2 separate regions of the Homo sapiens genome follow, and region 2 is reported to be linked to region 1. The links are microRNA targets in miRTarBase. Many come from high-throughput screens and were not tested one by one. Region 1 holds a microRNA gene; the other region holds the end of a gene's coding sequence.

Evidence for each region. The annotated mature microRNA hsa-miR-4501 reads UAUGUGACCUCGGAUGAAUCA and lies in region 1 at 1,357-1,377, shown strand. An mRNA with a match to its seed (bases 2 to 7 or 8) in the 3' UTR can be bound and repressed. Matches are read on the target gene's strand: a 7mer-m8 pairs with bases 2 to 8, a 7mer-A1 pairs with bases 2 to 7 and ends in A, and an 8mer does both.
Region 2: the mRNA of TMEM101 is a reported target of hsa-miR-4501. Seed matches in the 3' UTR shown: 7mer-m8 at 3,103-3,109.

Annotation. Positions count from the first base shown.
Region 1 is chr13:96,425,873-96,430,136 of GRCh38, forward strand. MIR4501 (microRNA 4501) reads left to right here and starts at 1,357; the gene lies at 1,357-1,420. All of the region lies in intron 1 of HS6ST3 (heparan sulfate 6-O-sulfotransferase 3), which reads left to right.
Region 2 is chr17:44,008,318-44,012,581 of GRCh38, forward strand. TMEM101 (transmembrane protein 101) reads right to left here. Exons shown (of 4, transcript NM_032376.4): 4 at 2,871-3,919. The coding sequence ends at 3,611. NAGS (N-acetylglutamate synthase) reads left to right here. Exons shown (of 7, transcript NM_153006.3): 7 at 131-751. The coding sequence ends at 284. Among named protein-coding and RNA genes, the nearest start is that of TMEM101, 4.5 kb to the right of the region's middle. RefSeq lists a silencer at 2,944-3,238.

The DNA.
Region 1 (4,264 bases):
TTTCCCTATAGGTAGGTGAATTTCTTTCATTTATTGCACAAGCCCTTACTGAGCATGCTCTGTTATTCACACACGTCTGCTTGGTGCTGTGGATGTTTCAAAGGATAGAGAAAAACAAGTCAGTGCCCCCCGAGAACCCCCAGAGAGATGAAGGAGATCTTCATATGGAAACACAAAATAGGAAATAGCCACTTGTGTAGGTCAAATATTGGTTAGTCCATGATTCAACCTAAATTGTATTTTTAAAAAGGGTAAAATTAAAAAAAAAATGGCCACCTTGCTGTAAGACCCCTGCTTCAGGCAGGGGTCTCGTCAACCTGTCACAGCTGTGTAATTATGTAAAGCTAATAAGCTTCATAACCTCATTTCAGGGTTATATTGTTCGCACTGCCTCTATTTGTGTTTTTTGAATCCAGCTCGTAAAGCCTATAATTAGGAGGAAGCATCAAAGTGCCTACTTACACACTTTTTATTTGTTTTCTAAGGTTGTAATTGTCTATAAGTGCTTGCATGGCTGACAATTCAGCAAACAGAATGGTTTCCAAATACTCTCATTGCAGCTTTCTTGATGTTTCTTTCTGTTTCATTCCTCACCTTGAAGCAATTCAGTTTTTCCCAGCTTTAATTCCACTCAAAAGTAGGAAAATGTTTATTTTCAATTAGAGTCTTACATAGCTTGATGGTTTCCCTTTGCCATTTTAAAGGGACTAGAGGAAATTAAAATCCGAGACAGTAAGTCATTTGACTTTTTTTAGTAAAATGATTGCTACTTTCTTCTCTTTATTGAAAGGGTTTTGAGATTTATCTCTGGAGTCAACTGCTTCTGTGTTCCTGGTGCTCTATGCAGTTAGCTGATGAGAGCTCTTCTGAAGTTGGTCCCTGTTCTCCATGTGTCTTTTAAAGAATTTCTTTTGCTTGTTTCCTTAAATAGTATGTTGCACAAGTTGAACTTAATTGATTTTGGTGATACATGCTTACTCCTGAATAAATGATAAATATGACTGCCTATCTTTTGCAAGGGTTTTAGTTCTGTTCTGTATAACATTAACATTGATAAACTAGTAGAGTTGTTCTCTACACATATGAAATATCTGGGGATAATGTAAAAATTCTGAGGTCCAATCAAATCTTGAAATAATTACAGCAGAATTGGGGGTAGGATTTGAGCCTCAGGAATTTTTAAAGCTTCCCAGGTGATTCCAATATTTGGCTAAGAATGAAATCCATAGTTAGAACGGATATACTTAGGTGAAAGTATAGTTGGTGGGGACATAGAAATTCATACTTAACCAGGAGAACAAACATGGTGCATTGGAATTAAATGGAGCTGGGTCTGAATTCCAGTCTATCACTTGTTATGTGACCTCGGATGAATCACTGAAATATGTCTGAGCTTCTGTTTCATCAGATGTCACATTTTATAAGTGATAGTGCTATTGTGAGGATTAAATAAGATAGTACCTGTCAAATACTCAGTATCAGTAGATCTCAATGAAGGTTAGCTTCTTTCTCCCCTCCTTTTTTAATATAGAGTTTATTTCAGGGAAGACTTCACAATGATGAAAATATGTGATTTTTCTCCACTGGTGGTGTTTTATTAGTTCATTTATTTTGTTATTTGATTTTTATATTATTAGTCATAGTACATATTACTTTTATAATACATTATTTATATTATGATATATTATTTTAATTTTGAAATAAATTTAGCATTACAAAAACATTACAAAGATAGAACTGAGAGTTTTTGTATATCCTTTATTCAGCTTTCCCTAATATTTAACATCTTGCATAATTATAGGACCTTTATTAGAACTGAGAAATCTACATTGGTACAATGCTATTATTTCACCAGAGCTCCATAAAGATCCTTTGTCTGTTCCAGGATCGAATCCAGGATCCCACATTGCATTTAGTTTTTATGTTTCCTTTGACTCCTACAATCTGTGGCAATTCTTGGACTTGTCTTGCTTTCTTGACCTTGACACTTTGAGAGTACTGATCAGTTGTGTTCTAGAATACCTCACAATTTGGGATTATCTGATGCCTACTCATGGACAGATTGAGTTTAGGCATTTTTGGCAACAATACCATAGAAGTAATGTACCCTTTTCAATATGAGGGGTACATGATGTTGGTATCTGTGGGGTTCTTTACATAATTAATAATAGTTAGGGATATGAGACACATTTGAGGGTGCTATATTAGTTTGATAAGGCTGCCATAGAAAGTATCACAGATGTGGTGGGCAGATCACCAGTTCAGGAGATCAAGACTGTCCTGGCTTACATGATGAAACCCCATCTCTACTAAAAATACAAAAAAAATTAGCCGGGCATGGTGGCACATACCTGTAGTCCCAGCTACTCAGGAGGCTGAGGCAGAAGAATCGCTTGACAGGGAGTCGGAGGTGCAGTGAGCTTAGACCGCACCACTGCACTCCAGCCTGGGCGACAGAGCGAGACTCCGTCTCAAAAAACAAACAAAAAAAGTATCACGGACTGGGTGGTTTAATAAATAAAATCTTATTTTCTCAGAGTTCTGGAGACTGGAGGTCTGAAATCAGGGTGTCAGCAGGGTTGGTTTCTTTTGTGGTCTCTCTCCTTGGCTTGTAAATGTCCATCTTCTCATGGTGTCTTTATATAGTCTTACCTTCTGTGTGTGTGTCTGTGTCCTAACCTCCTCTTCTCAAAAGGACACCAGTCATTGGATTAGGGCCCACCCCAATGACCTCATTTAATCTAGTTACCTCTTTAAAGACCCAATCTTCAAATAATGTCAGGTACAAGGAGATAGGACTTCAATATATGAATTTGGGGGTGGCAATTCAGCCCATTCCAGGTGCTTATCAAGTAAGAACATAGACTGAAATAGAACAGGCAAAAGATTTAACCAGGAATGCAAGTGCTCTGCAGTGCTCCTTAGAAATAGAAGCAGCTTCTTGGCAAAGTGGAGAAAACCATCACAGCAAACATAATGAAGCTCGATGAGGACAAAAATGCTCAATGGGAGAACCAAGCTGCTTAAGCAGTAAATAGAATATGGTGGAAGAACACGATGGGGATGGGTAGGAATGGTCCTTGTAGTTATAAATGACTATAAGAAAATCACGTGCCCATATTACAGCTGTAAAACTCAACGTGCTATGGTGATGTTGCAAGATATTTAAAGGCACAGAAATTTTTTTCAAAGAAACATTGAAAAGGGCTTATTCAGCCAAAAGAAGAAATTGCTGATGGGGGATTTAATTATCTTTGAGTACTGTATGTGCATGAGCTGTTAAACCAAGGACAGTGACCAGCTGTTTCGAAACTTTACAAGAACAGCTTTTAATTAAACAGGCTTAAGTGACAATGAATGAGGCTCAGATTAGAATAGAATAAAAATTTCCTGATAGAAACAGTGGTTAAATACCGAAAGGTTACCTATAGAAGCAGCGTGATATTATAAAATGAACATTGGATTGAAGTTAGATATATCTGTTTTAAATACCAAGTTACTATTCCACTACATGATCTTAGACAAAGAACTTAGCCCTCGTGAAAACACTAACAGTCTCATTTTTGGGGGAGTTAACTGAGCTACTATATGTAATTTTGGTAGATTTACTAATGTAAATTTAGAAGATTTAGAACAGAGCTTGCTGCACAATAATTGTTAGTTTGATCGACAGCTACTTTCTTCCCTGTATAAGTTCATTCCCTAGACATGTCTAAAGAGTACAGTGTTCTTTGCTCAACCTGAGCTGGTGTATATGTGGTGTTATTTGAAGTCCAGAGAAATTATATTTTCAGCCCTTTAGCTGTAAGACTTTACATTTCCTAACACAAAGTGGTTTTTAAGCTTAAATTCCTAACCCTCTAAGAATTCAGGTAAAGCAGATAGTCTGTAGGTTCGATAGAAAATTATAGGGAGTAGGAAAACTCTTTTTTTGTTGTCAGAATAATGCAGGCTCTTGTGTTTGGGAAAAAGCATGAATTATTTGACAAATTGTAGTTTATAAAATTCAGCTATGGTTAGCCACTGTGTGTTACTGGATTTTACAGAAATATTTTTCTATTGTAGATTTAAACCCCTTAACAAATAATAAACCCTGACAGAAAGGCATGATAAAATATAGGGGCTCATTCATAGAATCTAAATTGACGCTGATCACTATGCTTTCACAATTTGATTTAATGTACTTGCTGTGTGTTCATCCTCTGAGACAACATTGCAGCTAGCGTCTTAGCATAGCTGTGGATGCTACAGGCTTTGAGTTCTA
Region 2 (4,264 bases), not on the chromosome of region 1:
CAGCAGGACCAAGCTGGGTGCCCAGCATGCAGTAGGTCCTCAATCAATGTTTTTTAAAGACAGAACCAGTGAGTAATGAACACTGGCCTTGCCCTAAAAACTGTTTCCTACATCACCTCCCCACACCCAGGTACTTCAAACACAGTGATGGCAGCTTCTCCAACAAGCAGTGGATCTTCTTCTGGTTTGGCCTGGCTGATATCCGGGACTCCTATGAGTTGGTCAACCACGCCAAGGGACTGCCAGACTCCTTTCACAAGCCAGCTTCTGACCCAGGCAGCTGACCCTCACCATGGACACTACAGGCCCTGGAATGGCCAGGGTGGACCAAAAGCCATGCCAGCTGGGCATGACCCCAGGCAGCCAGCCACAGGCTGAAGGGGGCTTGTTGGCTGAGTGATCTGCAGAGGAGAAAGCAGCCCCAGCTCTGCCCAGAGGAGGCGCTGAAGTGGGACAAGCACAGGAAAGAAGGGGACCAGTCTAGGACCCCAACTCGACTCACTCTAAAGCTACAACCAAATGGCCTTCGATTTTCAACCTGGGGATTAGGGGAGGGGAGGGTGCCTTCCAGGGCTCTACTCAGGACTAACCCTAAGGGTGAGCTAGTTTCTGTGCCTCTGTGCTATGTTTTGAGGCTCCCTTACCCAAAATAATACCCCTGCCTGCGTGATATTCTACCATTCATTTTAATTCCTTTGGGTCTTGCAGTTTTTCAGGAGGCCTTGATTAAAATGCAAATACTTGTCTGAGAGTCAGCTTACACTTGAAAGAAAATTAGAAGTGACCCCGTGGGAGCAAGATTTTTTTTTTTTTTTTAAAGACAGGATCTTGCTCTGTTACCAAGGCTAGAGTACAGTGGTGCAATCACAGCTCACTGCAGCCTTGACCTCCCAGGCTCAAGCAATCCTCCCATGTCAGCCTCCTAAATAAGCTGGTACCACAGGCATGCACCGCCACACCTGGATCTTTTTTTTTTGGTAGAGACGAGGTCTCACTATGTTGCCAAGGCTGCTCTCAAACTCCTGGGCTCAAGCAATCCTCCCTGCTTGGCCTCCCAAAATGCTAGGATTACAGGCTGGGAGCAAGATCTTGAGGGCTGGGGAATCAGGGGACTCCTGGAGGGAGTAGAAGACTTCTATGATGAATGCTGCCACCATCTCCCTCCCAGAGATTAGGAAGCATCCTCCCTTCCACAGACCAGGCCACAGCAGCCCCAGCTCCCCTTGCCTGTGAGTGCCTCCACCCACAGCTCCCTTTCTAGGCTGGGCTCACAGCCAGACCCAGGCATCAGTGGCGGACCGTTTACCTGCAAGAGCCCAGAGAAGTTAAAAGATGGCTTTGGCTTAAAAGCTCAAACTTGGACGTTTTCCCCTAGGCCCTACTAGTGGTTGTGTCCAGTCTCTACAGGACTCGATGGGCAGAAATCCAAAGCCCAGGGGTTTCATTTGACATTTTTTGAAGCTCCATAATGTAGCAGGCACCATACCGGCTGCTGCTGGGGTGACTTTCTGGCAGACACATAGACAAGAAGGGAGAAGGTCGCCGGATGCGATGACTCACGCCTGTAATCCCAGCACTTTAGGAGGCCGAGGCGGGTGGATCACGAGGTGAGGAGATCGAGACCATCTTGGCTAACACAGTGAAACCCCATCTCTACTAAAAATACAAAAAATTAGCTGGGCGTGGTGGCGGGCGCCTGTAGTCCCAGCTACTCAGGAGGCTGAGGCAGGAGAATGGCGTGAACCTGGGAGGCGGAGCTTGCAGTGAGCCAAGACCGCACCACTGCACTCCAGCCTGGGCGACAGAGCGAGACTCCGTCTCAAAAAAAAAAAAAATTAGCCAGGCATGGTGGCGGGCACCTGTAATCCCAGCTACTCAGGAGGCTGAGGCAGGAGAATCACTTGAACCCGGGAGGCAGAGGTTGCAGTGAGCCGAGATCACACCACAGCACTCCAGCCTGGGTGACAGTGAGACTCTGTCTCAAAAAAAACAAAAAACAAACAAACAAACAAAACCGTAGTCCCAGCTACTCGGGAGGCTGAGGCAGGAGAATGGCATGAACCCGGGAAGCGGAGCTTGCAGTGAGCAGAGATCACGCCACAGCACTCCAGCCTAGGTGACAGAGCAAGACTCCGTCTCAAAAAAAAAGGGAGAAGGTCAACAGGGAGACCATCATGGCACAGTAGGGGCTGGAATAGAGCAGCCTCTGTCTCCCCTCAGGAGATGGGTCACAGTGAGTACATATCTGGACTTCACCATTAGACAGACCTGACCTGGAATCCAGCTCTGTGGGCTGGATTTGCTCTGTGGCTTGACCGAAACTGCTTATCCTCTCTGAGCCTCCATTTCCTTCATGTATAAAGTGTAAAATATTCCACTTCACAGTGGACACTTCACAGTTCTCTCCCTCTAGCTGCTCTCACCAAAGATGTCTTCATAAGAACCAGCTCCAAATGGGGAGAAAAAGACAACCTACAACAAGAGGGACTGAGGTGAGGGATTGAAAGCATATAGTACAATGAGGATTTTGAGATTCTTGAAAAAGAGAGCCACTGGGCACAGTGGCTTATGCCTGTAGTCCCAGCACTTTGGGAGGCTGAGGCTGAGGCTGGAGAATCACTTGAGCCAAGGAGTCTGAAACCAGCCTGGACAACAAAGTGAGACCTTGTCTCTAAAAAATAAAGAAGTGAAAAATTAAAAAAAAAAAGAAAGAGAGAGAGCCAAAGAACTGTGGGAAATCTTGGAACAGGGGAAAGATCACGGGAGGCCCAAGGTGGGGCTTGACCAGATCTAGTGTTTCAAGAAACCCAAGATCAATCCCAGCCAATGGCAGAGTTCCCTGTTGGGGAGAACAGAAAAGCAAAACCAAATGTCTATATAAAATGTTTATTTTTGGAGGACTGTGTGGTCTGGTGTTTGGGAGGGAACTCCACCCCCACCAGGCCAACCATGGAGCTAGAAACAGAGACAGCAGGAAGGGCAAAGCTGGCCACTGCCTGCTCCACCCCTTCACAGCCCAGAGCAGAACAGGGTCTGCTCTACTCTCAAGGTGAGTGACAGAGAGCCGGTACTGTTTCTGCCCCTGGCATACCCTGAGAACCCATGTGACTTCTGTAGTGCTCAGCCCCTGTGCCCTTCCTGGGCCTGATCCACATGTGTCAACACACGCACTCCCTCTCACAGTCTCCAAACAGCACTGCAGAGCCTAGCTGCATCTGCCAGGTTCAAAGAGGAATTTTTCACATTTGCTCACTTCCAATCTCCATCTTCCTTCCTCTGTCTCCCACTCTCCCACTCTCAGTAGCCGCATCCCAGCCCTGCCATACTCCCTTCTCAGGGACAGGAGACTCAGTGGGCAGCTGGCCTCAGCTCTCCTAACAGGAAAAAAACCTGTACAGCATTAGTGCCAGGGCTCCTGCCCTCCCAAGCGCTGAGCCCAGAAATTTGGACAAATGAGCTGCCTCTTAACTGCAAAAAACAATTTTAAAAAAGCAAAAGATCAAACAAACAGACCAAAAAGCATAAATAAACAGCAGCTGGGCCAGCAAGGAGGAAGGCAGGGTGACCCTCAGTGGCTCCCTGTGCCCATCTCAGCCTCTTGCCATAAAACTCAGCCATCAGTGGCCAGGATGACAGCAGTTCCGAAGATGCCCACACTCTCTCCAAGGAGCTTCATCTGGTTCCAGAACTCAACACGCCGCGTGTTGTGCCAGTAAGCAACATTGCCATCAATGAGCAGCATGACAGGGGGCAGCAGTACAGCCAGGATCTGGGCAGCGAGGGTCACGTAGTAGCCTGACAGAAAGGCCAGGGCCAGGATGCCATACAGCACGAAGAACAGCTGGATCATCAGCTCCCCTCCTGGGAGATGGTTCAGATACGCCAGCCGGTCCTCCTTGCTGTGCTGCAGTGAGTAGGCCTGGAGACATAACATCCTCTAAGACTCTCCAACAGGCTCAGAAGCCTGTCTGGGGTAAACCACCCCTGAGATGGCACCTGCAAATGAGTCCCTGCAGATGGGCTTCTGACTCCCCTCTTGGACTGGGGAACCTCTGAAAGTAGGGCCTTTGTCTCCCCCTCGGACTATGGAGCCCCAGGAGATTAGGGCCCATGTCTCCCCTCACCCTAGGGGCTATGAAGGAAGTGTATTTCCACAGTCAGACTAGAGCTCCCACCTCTGAATATGGGAGCCCACACAGAGAGCTGTACAGAGATATACTCGGTAATTAAGATAAGACCTAATGGCCTGGCGCCTGTCCATGTC